2 separate regions of the Homo sapiens genome follow, and region 1 is linked to region 2. A link means that fine-mapping ties the variant in region 2 to the expression of a gene that starts in the linked region. Tissue or cell type: subcutaneous fat. Region 2 holds a variant in brackets; the other region holds the start of a gene. All regions are shown on one strand. Distances are between the middles of the regions.

Evidence for each region. PIP is the estimated chance that this variant, and not a neighbour inherited with it, causes the effect.
Region 1: it holds the start of DCLRE1C, and the variant in region 2 is fine-mapped to the expression of DCLRE1C in subcutaneous fat (GTEx, PIP above 0.99). The same link has a PIP of 0.9 or more in prefrontal cortex, putamen and tibial nerve.

The regions. Positions count from the first base shown.
Region 1 is chr10:14,949,747-14,958,989 of GRCh38, reverse strand. It overlaps DCLRE1C (DNA cross-link repair 1C), which reads left to right and starts at 4,894. Exons shown (of 14, transcript NM_001033855.3): 1 at 4,894-5,088. The coding sequence starts at 4,980. It also overlaps a transcript of MEIG1 not described here. RefSeq lists a silencer at 4,703-4,782 and enhancers at 4,801-5,528, 5,529-6,257.
Region 2 is chr10:14,907,439-14,915,438 of GRCh38, reverse strand. It overlaps DCLRE1C (DNA cross-link repair 1C), which reads left to right. Exons shown (of 14, transcript NM_001033855.3): 14 at 6,109-8,000. The coding sequence ends at 7,031. Among named protein-coding and RNA genes, the nearest start is that of SUV39H2, 33 kb to the right of the region's middle. The variant T/G (reference allele first, on the strand shown) is at 4,646.

The sequences.
Region 1 (9,243 bases), 43 kb before region 2:
AGCATTATCTATTACTATATTACAGTACTATCTAAGCGAAAAGTGATCAGATTCAAGATATACGGTTTTTTGTTTTTTTGTTTTTGTTTTTTTTTAGACGGAGTCTCGCTCCGTCGCCCAGGCTGGAGTGCAGTGGTGCTATCTCGGCTCACTGCAAGCTCCGCCTCCCGGGTTCACGCCATTCTCCTGCCTCAGCCTCCCGAGTAGCTGGGACTACAGGCACCCACCACCACGCCTGGCTAATTTTTTGTATTTTTAGTAGAGACGGGGTTTCACCGTGTTAGCCAGGATGATCTCGATCTCCTGACCTCGTCATCCACCCGCCTCGGCCTCCCAAAGAGCTGGGATTACAGGCGTGAGCCACCGCGCCCGGCCAATTTACATGTTTTGAATGTAGAGCCATCAGGACTTGTCAAATTGTTGAATGAAAGAAAGGAGCAATTGTGTGCTGGAGCCAGCTCATTAGAGCTCTGGAGACTCAGTAATTAAATTTTTAGGAATTTTTCTGAGCTCGTTGTTAAATACAAGCCATGAGCTGGAGTCAATGAAGATGACAAGGGCCTCGGGCACCTGCCCCAAACAAAACAAAAACACAAGACATATCACAAATTAAATTATATAAACTTCTAAATAAACGAGTCATACTAAAACAAAGGCAATACTTAGTAAAACTAAAAACAAAAAACTATTTACTTACAACTCCCAAATTTCTCTCTTCAGCCCGGTCTTTCTCTGAACTTTAGATTTGTATATCAATGTATATTCAACATCCACTTGATTGTACAAAACAACCTCCCCAAACACCTCCCTGCCAAAACAAAAACAAAAACCCTGCTCCTTCTTCATGTCTTTTAGTAGATGTGGCCTAGAGCCCTCTCTTTCCATATCCATCAATGCAACCTGCTGACTTTATAGCTTCTACTCAAGCCATCATAATTTTTCTTTTTTCTGGTAATTACAACCGTTCCCAACAGCTCTCTATGCCCCCTCTGTAGTCTGTTGTCAACACAACAGTCAATGCAATCTGTTTAAAACCTAAGTCAAGGCCGGGCGCGGTGGCTCACACCTGTAATCCCAGCACTTTGGGAGGCTGAGGTGGGCAGATCACGAGGTCAGGAGTTCGAGACCAGCCTGGCCAATATGGTGAAACCCTTTCTCTACTAAAAATACAAAAGAACTAGCTGGGAGTGGTGGCGTGCACCTGTAGTCCCAGCTACTCGGGAGGCTGAGGCAGGAGAATCGCTTGAACCCAGGAGGTGGAGGTGGAGGTGGAGGTGGCAGTGAGCCGAGATTGCGTCACTGCACTCCAGCCTGGGCATAGAGGGAGACTCCGTCTCAAAGAAAACAAAACAAAAAAACCTAAGTCAAATTATGTCAGTCCTCTGCTCACAACCCTGCAATGGCTTCCCATCTTATGGAGAGTGAAAACCAGAGGCTATACATGGTGAGCAAAGCCCTGTAAGATTTGCTCACAACACCCTCCCTCCTTCCTCTGTAGCCCCGGATCATTCTGCTGCAGCCACACTGGCCTAACACTGCCTAGCACACAGTAGGTGCTAAAGGGATATATTTTGAATCAGTATATTTCATCACTGCCCTTCCGATGCTGTGGAGGCAGCATGGCACGGTGGCTAGCAGTGTGTTGTCAGAGAGCACAGTGTCTAAAAGTGTGGTGGCCTTCTTGGATTTAAATCTGAGCTCTACTTACTATCAACATGACCCTGGACAAGCTACTTAACCTCCGTATCCTCAACTGGCAAATGAGGACAGAAAGTGTACCTATCTGATGGGCAGGTAGGATGTGAGGATGAAATAATGAGTATAAAACACTGATAACATCTGGAACTACATAAATGGTAGACAGTAATTACTTGCATTAGAAGGTACACTCCCACGTCCACAGGGATTTTTGTCTGCTTTTTTAGTTTTATTTTTTTGAGACAGGGTCTCTTTTGTCGTCTAGACTGGAGTGCAGTGGTGCCATCTTGGCTCACTGCAATCTCTGCCTCCAGGTTCAAGTGATTCTTGTGCCTCAGCTCCCAAGTAGTTGTTATTGTAGGTGTACCACCACACCCGGCTAATTCTTTTTGCATCTTTAGTAGAGCTGGGGTTTTGTCATGTTGGTCTTTAACTCCTGGCCTCAAGTGATCCACCTGCCTTGGCCTCCCAAAGTGCTGAGATTACAGGCAGGAGCCACCAGGATGGGCCACATTTTTTGTCTACTTTGCTCACTACTGTATCTTTAGTGTCTAAAATAGTGTCTGATACACAGTAGATGGTCAGTGAATGATTTGCTGAATGAATTAAGCTTCACCATCACATTTCCTGCAGTATTGCAGCAGCTTCCTACCTGAATTCCTGCCCCAGACTTCTTGAGTGTTGTGTTTTTTTGTTTTGTTTTGCTTTCGAGATGGAGTTTCGCTCTTGTTGCCCAGGCTGGAGTGCCATGGTCCAATCTCGGCTCAGTGCAATTTCCGCATCCTGGGTACAAGCAATTCTCCTGCCTCAGCCTCCTGAGTAGCTGGGATTACAGGCCCCTGACTCCATGCCTGGCTATTTTTTTTTTTATTTTTAGTAGAGACGGGGTTTCCCCATGTTGGTCAGGCTGGTCTCGAACTCCTGACCTCGGGTGATCCACCTGCGTCGGCCTCCCAAAGTGTTGGGATTATAGGCATGAGCCACCACACTGGCCCTGAATGTTCTTTAGACTCGAATCCAGTGGTTCTCAAACTTTAGGGTCCATCAGAATCACCTAGAAGGTGTGTTAAGCTGCAAACTGCCAGGCCCCACTCTCCCAGAGTTTCTGATTCACTAGGTTTGGTCTGGGCTATGCTTACCTATCTTGCCTATTTTCTATCCTGTCTTTCTCTTTGTCCTGACTCTATTTCCCTTTGTTTGTACTGTATCCATTGTGGAAAGAGGAGGAGATAAATAAGTGAGCAAATACATAAGATCACGAGCATTAACTTGACCTGCCTTTCCTGGAGCTCTACCGTGAGATTCTTCGGACACTAGACTCACAGCAGAATTTGTTGTTAGGTCTCCATAACCCTGCCAGGGCAGTTGTTCCCATGTGTTCTAAGACAAACCATCAAAGGTGTTGCCAGTAGTATACTAGCAGGATATTTTACCTCAATTAGTGATTATGTTGTGTATACCTTTCCATGTCACCCCTCCTCCCCCTCCTCAAGATTTCATGGAAATCTGTATTTGAATAGAACTCTGAGTATCATGGCTACAGGCACAAGCTGACATTCACTAGGGATGTCATTCTGTTTTGTTTTGTTTTTTTGAGACAGAGTCTCTCTCTGTTGCCCAGGCTGGAGTGAACTGGCATGATCTAGGCTCACTGCAACCTCCGCCTCCCAGGTTCAAGTGATTCTCCTGCCTCGGCCTCCCGAGTAGCTGGAGATGTGTGCCACCATGCCCGGCCGATTTTTGTATTTTTAGTAGAGATGGGGTTTCACCATGTTGTCCAGGCTGGTCCTGAACTCCTGACCTCAGGTGATCACCTGCCTCAGCCCTCCAAAGTGCTGGGATTACAGGCATGAGCCACTGAGGTGGGCTGGGATGGCATTCTGATTCCTGATTTCCCTGGTCAGAAATCTTTGTTCCTGGATTTGTTCTCACGTTACCTTGCGTCTCTGTGGAAGCATTTATTTGCCATATTCTGCAAACATGTTGTCGCCAGATAGATTGAATGCTACCCGAAGGTTTGTCACAGTGCTGTGCACAAAGTGGGACTTCAAGTGTTATGGAGGCCTGGAAAGCCAGGTACAATGGCTCACCCAGCACTTTGGGAGGCCGAGGCGAGCGGATCGCATGAGGCCAGGAGCTCGAGACCAGCCTGGTCAACGTGGTGAAACCCCGTCTCTGCTAAAAATATAAAAATGAGCCAGGCGTGGCGGCGCGTGCCTGTAGTCCCAGCTACTCTGGAGGCTGAGGCAGGAGAATCGCCTGAACCCGGGAGGCGGAGGTTGCAGAGAGCCGAAATCACGCCACTGCACTCCAGCCTGGGCGATAGAACTAGACCCCAACTGAATAAATAAATAAAATAAAGCGAAAGTGTTCTGGGTTGTTTGTGTTTAATTATACTAAGGAGATTTGATAGGAAGGAGCACAATAAATGTCATGGTGATTATTTGGTTTATTGTAATACAATAAAGGAAATACAATAAAAGGTTTAACAAACCTTTTCATAAAGTTGCTTTGGTTGTTAAAAAATTTTAGACCTTTCCTGCCATTTTTCTTTTTTTAAGTACATCATTCTAACTTCCTAAAAGTATAGCTCAAAAAGGTGGGGGCCCAGGGGAGAGGCCAGCAGCGAAGGCATTATTGGGATCTTATTTGCCCCAAGATCACGCAGAGATGATTTATTCAGTTTGTAGATTATATAAACGGAAGAGGGAATTAATAGTTCCTGAATCTACCATGAGTCAGATACAAACTTTCTCATACAACCCTCACGGTAATCCCACAAGGTTAGAAATTGGGAACAGAAGAGAGAGGGCGGGGAACTGAGCTCGGGTTTCAGGCTAGCAGCAGACAAGCAGGAAGCGGAACGAAGAATGATTTCTAAGCGCAGTTCCGCAGCCCACTCACCTCGTCGGCTGGGGCCACCTGCTCTGGGAGTTTCGATTTCCCTTCCCGCGACTGCACCTCCACAGACATGGGCAACGCCTTACCAGAGCAACACCTGTGTTTGTTGGGCGGGAATGAGCCTTGCACTGGGCAGGGCTCAGGGCCCATCGCGTGCAGCGAAGCGCGGGTGATTTAAACCCAAGCAGCGGGCGCCTAGAACCCGACCGGATGCTCCTTGACTTTGCCCCCGGTCTCCGGACTCCTCTGATTGGACGTGGCTGCGTTCGGCCGCCCAATGGCGAGGCAGCGCGCGGCTTCCCGGAAGTGGCGGCGCGGTCAGGGCTGGCCTTGGCTTCAGCTGCGGTTTTGGGGTCCCGGACTCTGGGATCGGCGGCGCTATGAGTTCTTTCGAGGGGCAGATGGCCGAGTATCCAACTATCTCCATAGACCGCTTCGATAGGGAGAACCTGAGGGCCCGCGCCTACTTCCTGTCCCACTGCCACAAAGGTGAGTGAGGGCTGCGCGTCGCCCGCTCCCGGGGCGCTGGGGGCTGGAGAGAGGACAGGAGGGGGCCGGCCCTGGAGCAAGGAGCTGCAGCCTGTGGGAAGCCAGCGAGGGGGCGGCCAGCACACGCCTTGTCCCAGTCGGGCTCTTCAGCCTCTCAAAGGCTTCATCTATTTTCGGATGTGGTCAACGCGGCGTAACGGCGCCTGCCAGTTGCGCCCCGGGCCGGCTTGGTCAAGCACTGCTAGTAGTTTCTCTTGGTAGCTTTGCTGGTGGCCGATGATCAGAGATTGGCGAGGGTTAGTACTTCCCTCAGAGCCTCGCTACCATGTATGAAGAAAACAAGTTTCAGATCCATTTGACCACACCCTCAAACATTGGTCAGCAAGCAGGAGACTCAGACACACACACAACTGTGGAACAGCCCGCCTAAGAGCTCCACGAAGTGCAAGCTCCTTGGCCTTTGGGTGTTCTGTCCGTATCCAATATGAAAGTTTCGTTCTAGTTTAGGTTGGAGGGATGTTTCCCTTCTAGATGGTATCAGGCAACCTGAAAAGCTACTATGATTTCACAGCTGGATCCTTTCACAGCTGGGCCGATTTAGGGATTAAGGTTAGAGTGTCGCTGATGCTCCAAGCAGAGATTGGAGCTAAGTTCCAGAGTTTAAATACCGCTAACTTGACAACCATTGTTCATTTTCACTTCTATTGTGCTAACAAGTCACTAACTTTTACCAGGGAAAACAGTTTTAATGCTCATTGTGCTAATTCGCCCAGCCATTAGTGTTAATTGGAGAAAATGATAAACGGAATCACTGGAGTTGCTGCCTCCTGCTGTGTGGCCTTGCAGCGTGCTGGAGCAGGAAGCTCCCACTACCCTGTGGAGTCAATCAGCGTAACAAACCTATCTGTACCTGCGCAGTAGGAAAGTATTTTAAAGTAAATTACAGGTATCCAAACACAGCCTTTCCTCACAGGGTTGGTGTGAAGGCCAGCTATGTTGTTTTGTGTGTGGAATCAATCACTTGGACTATAAATCGTTGAAGTTACTGCTTCTGCGAAATGTCTCTGCTTTTTTTTTCCACAAAGCCACCAGTGATTTCTCTTTAATGGGAAAATCTGGACCTCTTCTCGTGCGTTGCCGTATTCGCATCGTGCACGTCTTTGAGCATCTCCTTCTTCTTTTTCTTTTTTTTGGAGACAGGGTCTCCCTTTGTCGCCCAGGCTGGAGTACAGTGTGGCACATGCTCTCTGCTCAAGTAGTTGGGACTACAGGAGTCAGCCACCATGCCTAGCTAATGTTTGTATTTTTATTATTATTTTGAGGTGGAGTCTCCATCACCAGGCTGGAGTGCAGTGGCGTGATCTCTGTTCACTGCAACCTCCGCCTCCTGGGTTCAAGCGATTCTCGTGCCTCAGCCTCCCAAGTAGCTGGAGTTACAGGCACGCACCACCACACCCAGGTAATTTTTGTGTTTTTAGTAGAGATGATGTTTCACCATGTTGGCCAGGCTGGTCTCGAACTCCTGGCCTCAGGTAGATCCACCCACCTCAGCCTCCCAAAGTGTTAGGATTACAGGTGTGAGCCGCTGTGCCTGACACATTTCTGGTTTTGTTTTTCATTGAGAATCCACTGCTGGACGAGGATATGCCTATTTTTACTTTTTGTGTAGAGCCGCACTGGAGTCTCTGAACTCAAAATGGGCTAGCCAGGATTAAAGTATACTTCCGAAACTTGCACTTCGTGTTTAGGATGGCTGAGTTTGGAGAAATAATAAATCTAAAGGAATTTGAAATCATCATAAGTTTGTGCATTAAGCCAGAAATGGACTCTTCCCTACTGTTGAACAGTCTATAACAACTTTTTCTGTTCTCTGACCACATGTGGATCTGCTTAGTCAACCAGGACATAAACTCATCAAGGGTGAAAACACAACTTCTGCTTTTGGAGGTTTCTCACATTGCCTTCTGTTGGCTTTTCACCTTTTTGGGACACAGGCTTCTTTGATTATGATATGGACTATCTCCACAAAATTCATATGTTGAAGCCCTAACCCCCAAAGCGACTGTATTTGGGGCTGGGGCTTTTAGGAGGAAAATAAGTTTAAGTGGGGTCCTACCGTGGTGTCCTACTCTGATAGGATTAGTTTCCTTACAAGAGAAGGAAGAGAGAGGGCGCTCTGTCCTCATGCGGGGCCTAGGAAAGCCATGTGAGTGCATAGTGAGAAGGCGGCTGTCTGTAAGTTAGGAAAAGTGCCCTCTCCAGAAACCAAATCGCCCCGCATCTTGATCTTCCCAGCTTCCTGAACTGTGAGAAATACCTTTTTGGTGTTGAAGGCAACCAAAACACTACCTTTCCTTACAGCGCTGGTGTGAAGGCCAACTATGGTATCTATGGTATCTTGTGATAGCAGCTCAAACATGAGAAACTGTATGGACTCTTTTGCTAGAAAAAATGCATGGAAACCCATCCACATCACTTCCTTTTTTTTTTTTTTTTTTTTTTTTTTTTTTTTGAGACAGGGTTTTGCTCTGTCACCCAGGCTGGAGTGCAGTGGTGCGATCTCGGCTCACTGCAGCCTTCACCTCCTGGACTCAACCAATCCTCCCACCTCAGCAAGTACTCCCACCTGAGTAGTTGGGATTACAGACATGCACCATCATGCCTGGCTAATTTTTCTATTTTTTATAGAGAGACAGGATTTCCCCATGTTGCCCAGGCTGGTATCGAACTCCTGGGTGCAGGTGATCCACTCACCTCAGCCTCCCAAAGTGCTGGGATGACAGGTGTGAGCTACCACACCCAGCCCCACATCACATTTTGATATAATTCGGAGTAGGCTATGGACCCACCTGATGCTTATTTGTGGGCCATCTGGAAGCCAATGCTGTGTGCAGGGTGGGCTTTACTAAGCATCATCAGTAAGTTCTGAAAGATGAGAGGGCCCCCCGACCCCTGAGACCTGAGATAGTGGCCCAGGGTTGGGGAAATCCCCTAGAGGGGACAATTTATGATGGTTGCCAAGGAAAAGGAAAACCTCCCTGGAAAAGCAGACCTGGGTGCAGTTCCAGCCACACAAAGCAAACCCATCCAGTTCTTGTGACTACCAGCTGGAAGGGGCCTCAGGGTGGTGAGGATGGGGGACCATGATGCACCATGCAGGGTGCTGCCTGCTTAGTCAGTGTGGGAGCAGGATGCAGAGTCTGCATTCAGCCTCCTCTTTGCCATGGCGCAAACTCTTTGGAAACTCCAATTACGGAGAATGCTGCCCAGGGATATACCCATAGGCCCTAAAAGACTGGACCAGATATCCCTTGAGGGAATTTACCCAGTGGGAGACAGGTGGACTCTCCTGGAGGCATATATACAATCAAGGGCTGCCAAGTGACATGTGGTGACTGCTCTGCTTTCACTGGGTCTAATGATGGCCACACGACATATAAATTGAGGGGGTGCTTGTGTGTGTGTGTGGTGGTGCTCGTGGTAATTAGAATTGGTTTGGTTTAGCTAAGCAATTTATTGTTCTTGTTTTTTTTTTTTTTTTTTTGGTTATTATTTATTTTTGAGATGGAGTTTCACTCTAGTTGCCCAGGCTGGAGTGCAATGGTACAATCTCAGCTCACCGCAACCTCTGCCTTCGGGGTTCAAGCAATTCTCCTATCTCAGCCTCCCAAGTAGCTGGGATTACAGCCATGCGCCACCAGCCCCAGCTAATTTTATATTTTTAGTGGAGACAGGGTATCTCCGTATTGGTCAGGCTGGTCTCGAACTCCCAACCTCAGGTGATCCGCCTGCCTCGGCCTCCCAAAGTGCTGGGGTTACAGGCATGAGCCACCGCGCCCAGCCGTTTGTTTGTTTTTGAGATGAAGTCTCACTCTGTCGCCCAGGCCGAAGTGCAGTGTTATGGCCTTGGCTCACTGCAACCTCTACCTCCCATGTTCAAGTGATTGTCCTGCCTCAGCCACCCGAGTAGCTGGGATTATAGGGGTGTGCTACTATTCATGGCTAATTTTTGTATTTTTAGTAGAGATGGGGTTTTACCATGTTGGCAAGGTTGGTCTTGAACTTCTGACCTCAGGTGATCCGCCTACGTCGGCCTCCCAAAGTGTTGGGATTACAGGCAAGAGCCACCATGTCCAACTGGTTTAGTTAAACAAT
Region 2 (8,000 bases):
AGTAGTTTGTGTCTTCTCTCATTTTTTTCTTGATTAGTCTAGCTAGAGGTTTACCAGTTTTACTGATCTTCTCAAATAAGAAGTTTTTGGTTTTATTTTCATTTTCTCTCTTTTTTGTTTTTTTGGCACGGGGTAGTTTTCTATTTCATTGAATTCCACTCTGATCTTTATCTGCTTACTTGGAATTTTATTTGCTTTTCATTTTTAAGTTTCTTAATATGGAAGCTGAGGTCGTTGATTTGAGACCTTATTTTCTAATGTAGGCATTTAGTGCTATAATTTTCCCTCTTTAGCAGCATCCCATAAATTTGTCTTGTTTTCATTGTCATTCAAAACATTTTTAAATTTTTCCTTTGACTTTTTTTCTTTGACACATGGGTTATTTAGAAATTTGTTACTAGTTTCTGAATTTTGGAGGACTTCCCAGGGATTATTCTGTTATCTAAATTAATGTTATTGTGGTTAGAGAACATACTTTGTATGATTTTTTTTTTTTTTAATGAGATGGATTCTCTCTGTTCCCCAGGCTGGAGTGCAGTCACACAATCTTGGCTCATTGCAACCTCTGCCTCCCAGGTTCAAGTGATTCTCCTGTGTCAGCATCCGAAGTAGCTGGAATTACAGGCTCACGCCACCATACCTGGCTAATGTTTTGTATTTTTAGTAGCCACAGGGTTTTGCCATGTTGGCCAGGCTGGTCTCAAACTCCTGACCTCAGGTGATCCACCTGCCTCCCAAAATGTTGGGATTACAGGCGTGAGCCACCACACCTGGCCTGGTACTTTTGAAATTTATGGTCCAGAATATTTACGGACCATCAATTGTGGACCAATTTACACATTAAACCTGGTAAATGTTTAATGTGTACTTCAAAGAAATATATGTACTACTGTTGTTGGATGAAGTGTTCTATAAATGTCAACTAGGCTAAGTTAGTTGACAATGTTGTTCAGGTCTTCTACATTCTTGTTCTATCAATTATTGCCAGAGAGGGGTGTTGCAATCTCCAGTTGTAATTGTGGACTTGCCTATTTTGCCTTGATTAGTTCTATTGGCATTTGCTTCATCTATTTGAGGCACTATTAATAGGTATACACAAGTTTAAGATTCTTATATCCTCTTGAGGGATTGATACCTTTATCTTTAGGAAATGAGTCTATCCCCTGGTAACATTCTTAGTTCTACAATCTACTAGAGCCATTTGAATTTCTTCTCATTAATATTGGCTTGATGTATCTTTTTCCATCTCTGTATTTTTAACTAGTCTTTATATTTAAAGTGGGTTTCTTGTAAGCAGTATGTTGTTGGATGTTTTTATGGCCAACCTGGTATTTTCTGGCTTTTAATTGCAGTGCTTAGTCCACTTAGTTTAATGGTACCCATTGATATGGTCAGGTTTAAGTTTATCCTCTTGCTATTTGTTCCATTTGTTCTTTATTCTTTTTTGGCCTTCTTTCAGGTCAAGTAATTACTGACTGATTCTGTTTAATCTCTTGTTGGGTTATTGGCTGTGTAACTCACTGATTTCTTATTTTAGTGGCTTATAATGCAGTCATCCCTTAGTATCCTTGGGGGATTGGTTCCAGGACCCCCCCAAGAGTACCAAAATCTGCAGATGCTCAAGTCATATTAAATGGTGTTACATTTGCATATAACCTACACATATCCTCCCATATACTTAAAATCATCTCTGGATTACTTATACCTAATACAGTGTAAATGCTTGGTAACTAGTTGTTATACTGTATCAATTTTTGTGTTTTTTGTATTTTAATTTTTGCTTTTTTCCAAATATGTTTGATCTGTGGTCAGTCAAATCTACAGATGTGGAACCTGTGGATACAGAGGACTGACCGTATACATCTTTAACATATCAGAGTGAAAAGATAAATGATATATTACTCCAAATATGGTATAGGAATGTTCCAGCAGTATATTTCCATTCCTCTTCTCCCAGTCTGTGCTGTTATTGTCATACATTCTCTGTTATTAACTTTATAAACTCCACAATACAAAATTATTTTTTAAGCTTTATTGAAGTATAATTGATACACCATAAATTCATCCATTATAGGTGAACAATTCCACGACTGTTAGTATAACAGAATTGTACAATCATCCCCACTATCTAATTTTGGAACATTTTTTGTTACCCAAAAAAGAAACTTTATGTCTATTTCCAGTCACTCCCCATTACTATTCCCGGCCTTAGGCCGCAACTAATCTATGGTTTGTCTCTATAGATTTGTGTTTTCTGGACACTTCATATAAGAGAACTCATATGGCCAGGCACAGTGGCTCGCGCCTGTAATCCCAGCACTTTGGGAGGCCAAGGCAGGTGGATCATGAGGTCAGAGAGATCGAGACCATCCTGGCTAACACGGTGAAACCCCGTCTCTACTAAAAACACAAAAAATTAGCCAGGTGTGGTGGCGGGCGCCTGTAGTCCCAGCTATTGGCCAGGCACAGTGGCTCACGCCTGTAATCCCAGCACTTTGGGAGGCCAAGGCGGGTGGATCATGTGGTCAGAGAGATCGAGACCATCCTGGCTAACACGGTGAAACCCCGTCTCTACTAAAAACACAAAAAATTAGCCAGGTGTGGTGGCGGGCACCTGTAGTCCCAGCTATTAGGGCAGCGGAGGCAGAATGGCGTGAACCCAGGAGGCAGAGCTTGCAGTGAGATCACACCACTGCACTCCAGTGTGGGCGACAGAGCGAGACTCTGTCTCAAAAAGAAAAAAAAGAAATTATACACCATGTGCTATTTTGTGCCTGGCTTTTATTTCGCATTATCTTTTCAAGGTACATCTATACTGTGGCATATATCAGTATTTCATACCTTTTTATTGCCAACCAATATTCAATTGTACAGGCATACAACATTTTATTTATCCACTCACCAGCTGATGGACATCTGGGTTGCTTCTCCTTTTTAAATAATAATGCTATGAAAATTTGAGTACAAGTCTTTACGTATCTTTCTGTTGGGTTTTATTTCTTGTGGGGGGTAGAATTTTGGAGTCATATAGTTGGCTTGGGCTGCCCTAAGAAAATAACACATACTAGGTAGCTTAAACAGGAGGCCAGGCATAGTGGCTCACGCCTATAATCCCAGCACTTTGGGAGGCCGAGGCGGATGGATCACCTGAGATCAGGAGTTCAAGACCAACCTGGCCAACATGGTGAAAACTTGTCTCTGCTTAAAAAAAAAGTAAAAATTAGGCTGGGCACAGTGGCTCAAGCCTGTAATTCTAGCACTTAGGCAGATCAAGTCTCCAGCCTTATGATGGTTTAATTATTTCCCTAGAGGTCCATCTCTAGATAACAGCCACACTGGCTTTAGGGCTTCCACATATGAATTTTGACAGGAAGCGTTCAGTTCATAACATATGGTCAATCTGTTTTAACACTCCAAGGAACTGCCAAACATTCCCACACTGAATACATTTTACATTCTCTCCGGCAATATGTAAAGATTCCAGTTCCTTCACATATTAGCCAACACTTCCGTCTTTTTTAGTATAGCCATCCTAGTGTATGGTGGTACCCTGCAGTTTTGATTTGCATTTCTCTAATGACTAATGTTGAGCTTTCTTTCATGTGCTTATTGGCCATTTATGTAACTTCTTCAGTGAAATGTCTATTCTGATCTTTTGCCCCCATTTCAACTGGATTATTGACCTTTGTATTGAGTTGTAAGAGTTAAAGTCTGGTATCAGTCCTTTATCTGACATGATTAGGAAATATTTTCTCAGACTTGTCTTTTCACCTTCTTGATGGTGTCTTGAAGCGTAAAGGTTTTAAGTTAAATTTGTCTATTTTTTTCTTTTATTGCATATGCTTTGGTGTCATATCTAAGAAACTATTTGATCCAAGATCATGAAAATTGACTCCCATGTTACATAATTTTACAGTCAGTTTTGACTGTATCTTCCTGCTTCTTGAATTTCTGATAATTTGTTTTTGAATGCCATACATTCTGAATTTTACCTTTTTAGGTCCTGCATAATTTTGGGATTTCTAAAAACATTCTTGAGCTTTGTTCTGGCATGTGGTTAGCATGTTTATAGTTTGATCTTTTCGTGTCTTTTACCTTTGTTATGCAGGAACAGAGTAGCATTTAGTATATGGTTAATTTTCCCCACTACTGAGGCAAGGCTCTTCTTGGTTCTTTTACAAATGCCCATGGATCATGAGGTTTTCCACTCTGGCTGTTGGGACCAGGACAAGACACTGTTCCTGGCACGGTGAGTTCTGGGCACTTTCTTTCCTTTTGTTTGAGTGATTCGTTGCCTGGCTGCAGGTAGTTTCCTTACAAGCACATGCTGCTTAGTGCACTGAACACGTGGTGGGGACGCCTCTGCAGCTTTTCAGAGTTTCTGTGCAGCACTCTCCTCTCTGGTCTTCTGCTCTGTAAACTCCAGGTACATTTATTTCTTCAATGTTCCACTTCCACCTCACATCAAGGATGTCCATGGGCTCTATCCAGATGTTCCCTCCCTGACTGGAATCTGTTATGAAGCAGGGAGTCAGGCAATCATAGGACTCATCTGTGTCTTATTTCTCATGTCATTGTCCTTAATTGCTCGATGTCCATTTTCTTGAGAGATAGTTTCTGATTTTTCGTTATTTCAAGTGGGAGG[T/G]TAAATCTAGTCCGTTACTCCATCTTACCTGGAAGCAAAAGTCCTTTCTTCCTTTAATCTTTTGTGCCTTTTATGCATCTACCCAATCCACACTCCTTTTTGATAAATGTCTTTTGGGATCAGGCATAGTCACTGATTTGGAATGCAGAACTGTTCAACTTAGAGATCATACAAAAATATTTCATAAAAAGGTAATTTTGGGCTAGGCAAAGTGGCTCATGCCTCTAATTCCAGCAATTTGGGAGGCCGAGGGGGTGGATTGCCTGAGTGCAGGAGTTCAAAACCAACCTGGGCAACAAGGGGAAACACTGTCTAAAAAAAATTAGCTGGGCATGGGGGTGGATCTCCTGAGCCTGAGAGGTAGAGGCTGAACTGTGACTGTATAAAACTCAAAAAACAACTTTGGCATAGTAGTGAGGGACCTAAAACATACATATGATCTTTGGCTTAAAATCTACATTCTGCAGTCTAGGATGATTCCAAATACAGTCGTTAGATATCTTAGTGACCTTAAGCCCTAAGTTCAGTTACAAGTCATAACACTGAACCTTTAAGAATGAGGTTGGGTCGTGTGTATTGGCACACCCTTTTCTCTGGGCCTAGCTTCACACGGGGAACATGGGAGCTGGATAATGGTCTCTATGGTCCTTTATATTAGTGTCTTAAAAATGCAGTGTTTAGCCACATCATTTAAGTGGATTATTATAACACCAGATTCAGCAGTAGAACAAGAAGTTGCCATACACAGTAGTCTTGGGTGCATTTAACTTTCTTCCTAGGTTAGATACTGTTACAAGATGGGAAAATATTTGTTTTTCTAAGTAAGGCTTTTTTCATTTTAAGAACATTTGTTGACACAGCATGCTTATTAATGTTTTGAATTTTAAGTTCTTGACACGTTGATTATTCAGTATTTTGCTTTAAAGTTGATTTAACCTGTTGCAACCTTGTGCATAAAACATGTCAATAAGATGCTCACAGAAGAAAAACCTTAATAAAAAGCAATTTAATTTTCCTAAGTCAGCCAACCCACTGAGCATCTACTATTTGCAGAGCACACAGGCTTTGCAAACCTGGCTGAACAGATATCAGCTGTAGAACTTAAAAATCAAATTATTTGGTCCTATCTTCCTCAGGGATTCAGTAGGTCTGGAATGAGATACAGAAACCTGTTTTTTTTTTTTTTCTTTTTTTGAAGTTTTGCATATGATCGTAATGATCAGCCAGGCTTACATATAGAGCAGAGTGACTGCTCTATATTCTCCACTGATACTCTGGCATTTATTATAAAAAGTTGAAGGATGGCAGTTAAATTGTTCAGCATATCCCAAGAATATCTTTTCCCTTTGAAGAAGAGTGGCCTCCCTATTCTTTGCAATTCCAAGAATTAAAAGTACAGATAAATACTACAAATTGGCTCCCTTTGCCTTGTTTCCTATAAACCTGTTTTGTTTGTCCCACAGAGGAGGAAGATGACTATCTCTTTGATGATCCTCTGCCAATACCTTTAAGGCACAAAGTTCCATACCCGGAAACTTTTCACCCTGAGGTATTTTCAATGACTGCAGTATCAGAAAAGCAGCCTGAAAAACTGAGACAAACCCCAGGATGCTGCAGAGCAGAGTGTATGCAGAGCTCTCGTTTCACAAACTTTGTAGATTGTGAAGAATCCAACAGTGAAAGTGAAGAAGAAGTAGGAATCCCAGCTTCACTGCAAGGAGATCTGGGCTCTGTACTTCACCTGCAAAAGGCTGATGGGGATGTACCCCAGTGGGAAGTATTCTTTAAAAGAAATGATGAAATCACAGATGAGAGTTTGGAAAACTTCCCTTCCTCCACAGTGGCAGGGGGATCTCAGTCACCAAAGCTTTTCAGTGACTCTGATGGAGAATCAACTCACATCTCCTCCCAGAATTCTTCCCAGTCAACACACATAACAGAACAAGGAAGTCAAGGCTGGGACAGCCAATCTGATACTGTTTTGTTATCTTCCCAAGAGAGAAACAGTGGGGATATTACTTCCTTGGACAAAGCTGACTACAGACCAACAATCAAAGAGAATATTCCTGCCTCTCTCATGGAACAAAATGTAATTTGCCCAAAGGATACTTACTCTGATTTGAAAAGCAGAGATAAAGATGTGACAATAGTTCCTAGTACTGGAGAACCAACTACTCTAAGCAGTGAGACACATATACCCGAGGAAAAAAGTTTGCTAAATCTTAGCACAAATGCAGATTCCCAGAGCTCTTCTGATTTTGAAGTTCCCTCAACTCCAGAAGCTGAGTTACCTAAACGAGAGCATTTACAATATTTATATGAGAAGCTGGCAACTGGTGAGAGTATAGCAGTCAAAAAAAGAAAATGCTCACTCTTAGATACCTAAGAATTCAAAGCGTTTCAACCTAGAGCAACCACTAAAAAACCTGCACAGAGATGACAGTCAATATTACAATAGAGAAAATACAGTACTTAAAAATGTTCAAATAACCTGGTTGGGTGTGGTGGCTCACACTTGTAATCCCAGCACTTTGAGGTGGGCAATGGCTTGAGCCCAGGAGTTCGACACCAGCCTGGCCAACACAGTGAAATGTGTCTCTACTTACAAAAAAAAAAAAAAAAAAAAAAGCCAGGCATGGTGGTGGGCTACTCTGGAGGCCCTTGAGGATCACTTGAGCCCAGGAGATTGAGGCTGCAGTGAGCCATGACTGTGCCACTGCACCTCTAGTCTGGGTGACAGAGCAAGACCCTGTTTAAAAAAGAAAAAGGCCAGGCACGGTGGCTCATGCCTGTAATCCCAGCTACGCAGGAGGCCAAGGCAGGAGAATCACTTGAACCTGGGAGGTGGTGGTTGCAGTGAGCTGAGATTGTGTCATTGCACTCCAGCCTGGGCAACAAGAGCAAAACTCTGTCTCAAAAAAAAAAAAAAAAAAAAAGAAAAAAAAATGGTAGAACTAAACCCATACGTATCAATGATTACATTAAATGTAAATGGTCTAAGTGCATCAATGACAAGAGACACGGAAAAAACCAACATAACCCAGTGATCTGCTGTCTATAAAGAAAGTCAATTCAAGTGATTGATAGGTTAAAAGGATGGAAAAACCATGTAAACAATTAAAAATGGAGTGGTTATATGGACAGTTTCCTAATGATAAAAGGTCTAGTTCACCAAGAAGACAAAATAATCCTAAACGTATATGCACCTAACAGCTCCAAAAATTTATGAAGCTAGAACAGCTGAAAAGAGACAAACTAATGCACAATTACAGCTAGGGATTAATTTAACATCCCTCCTTAGTAACAGAACTAGTATATACACATTAATCAGTAAGAATATAGAACTGAAAATCAT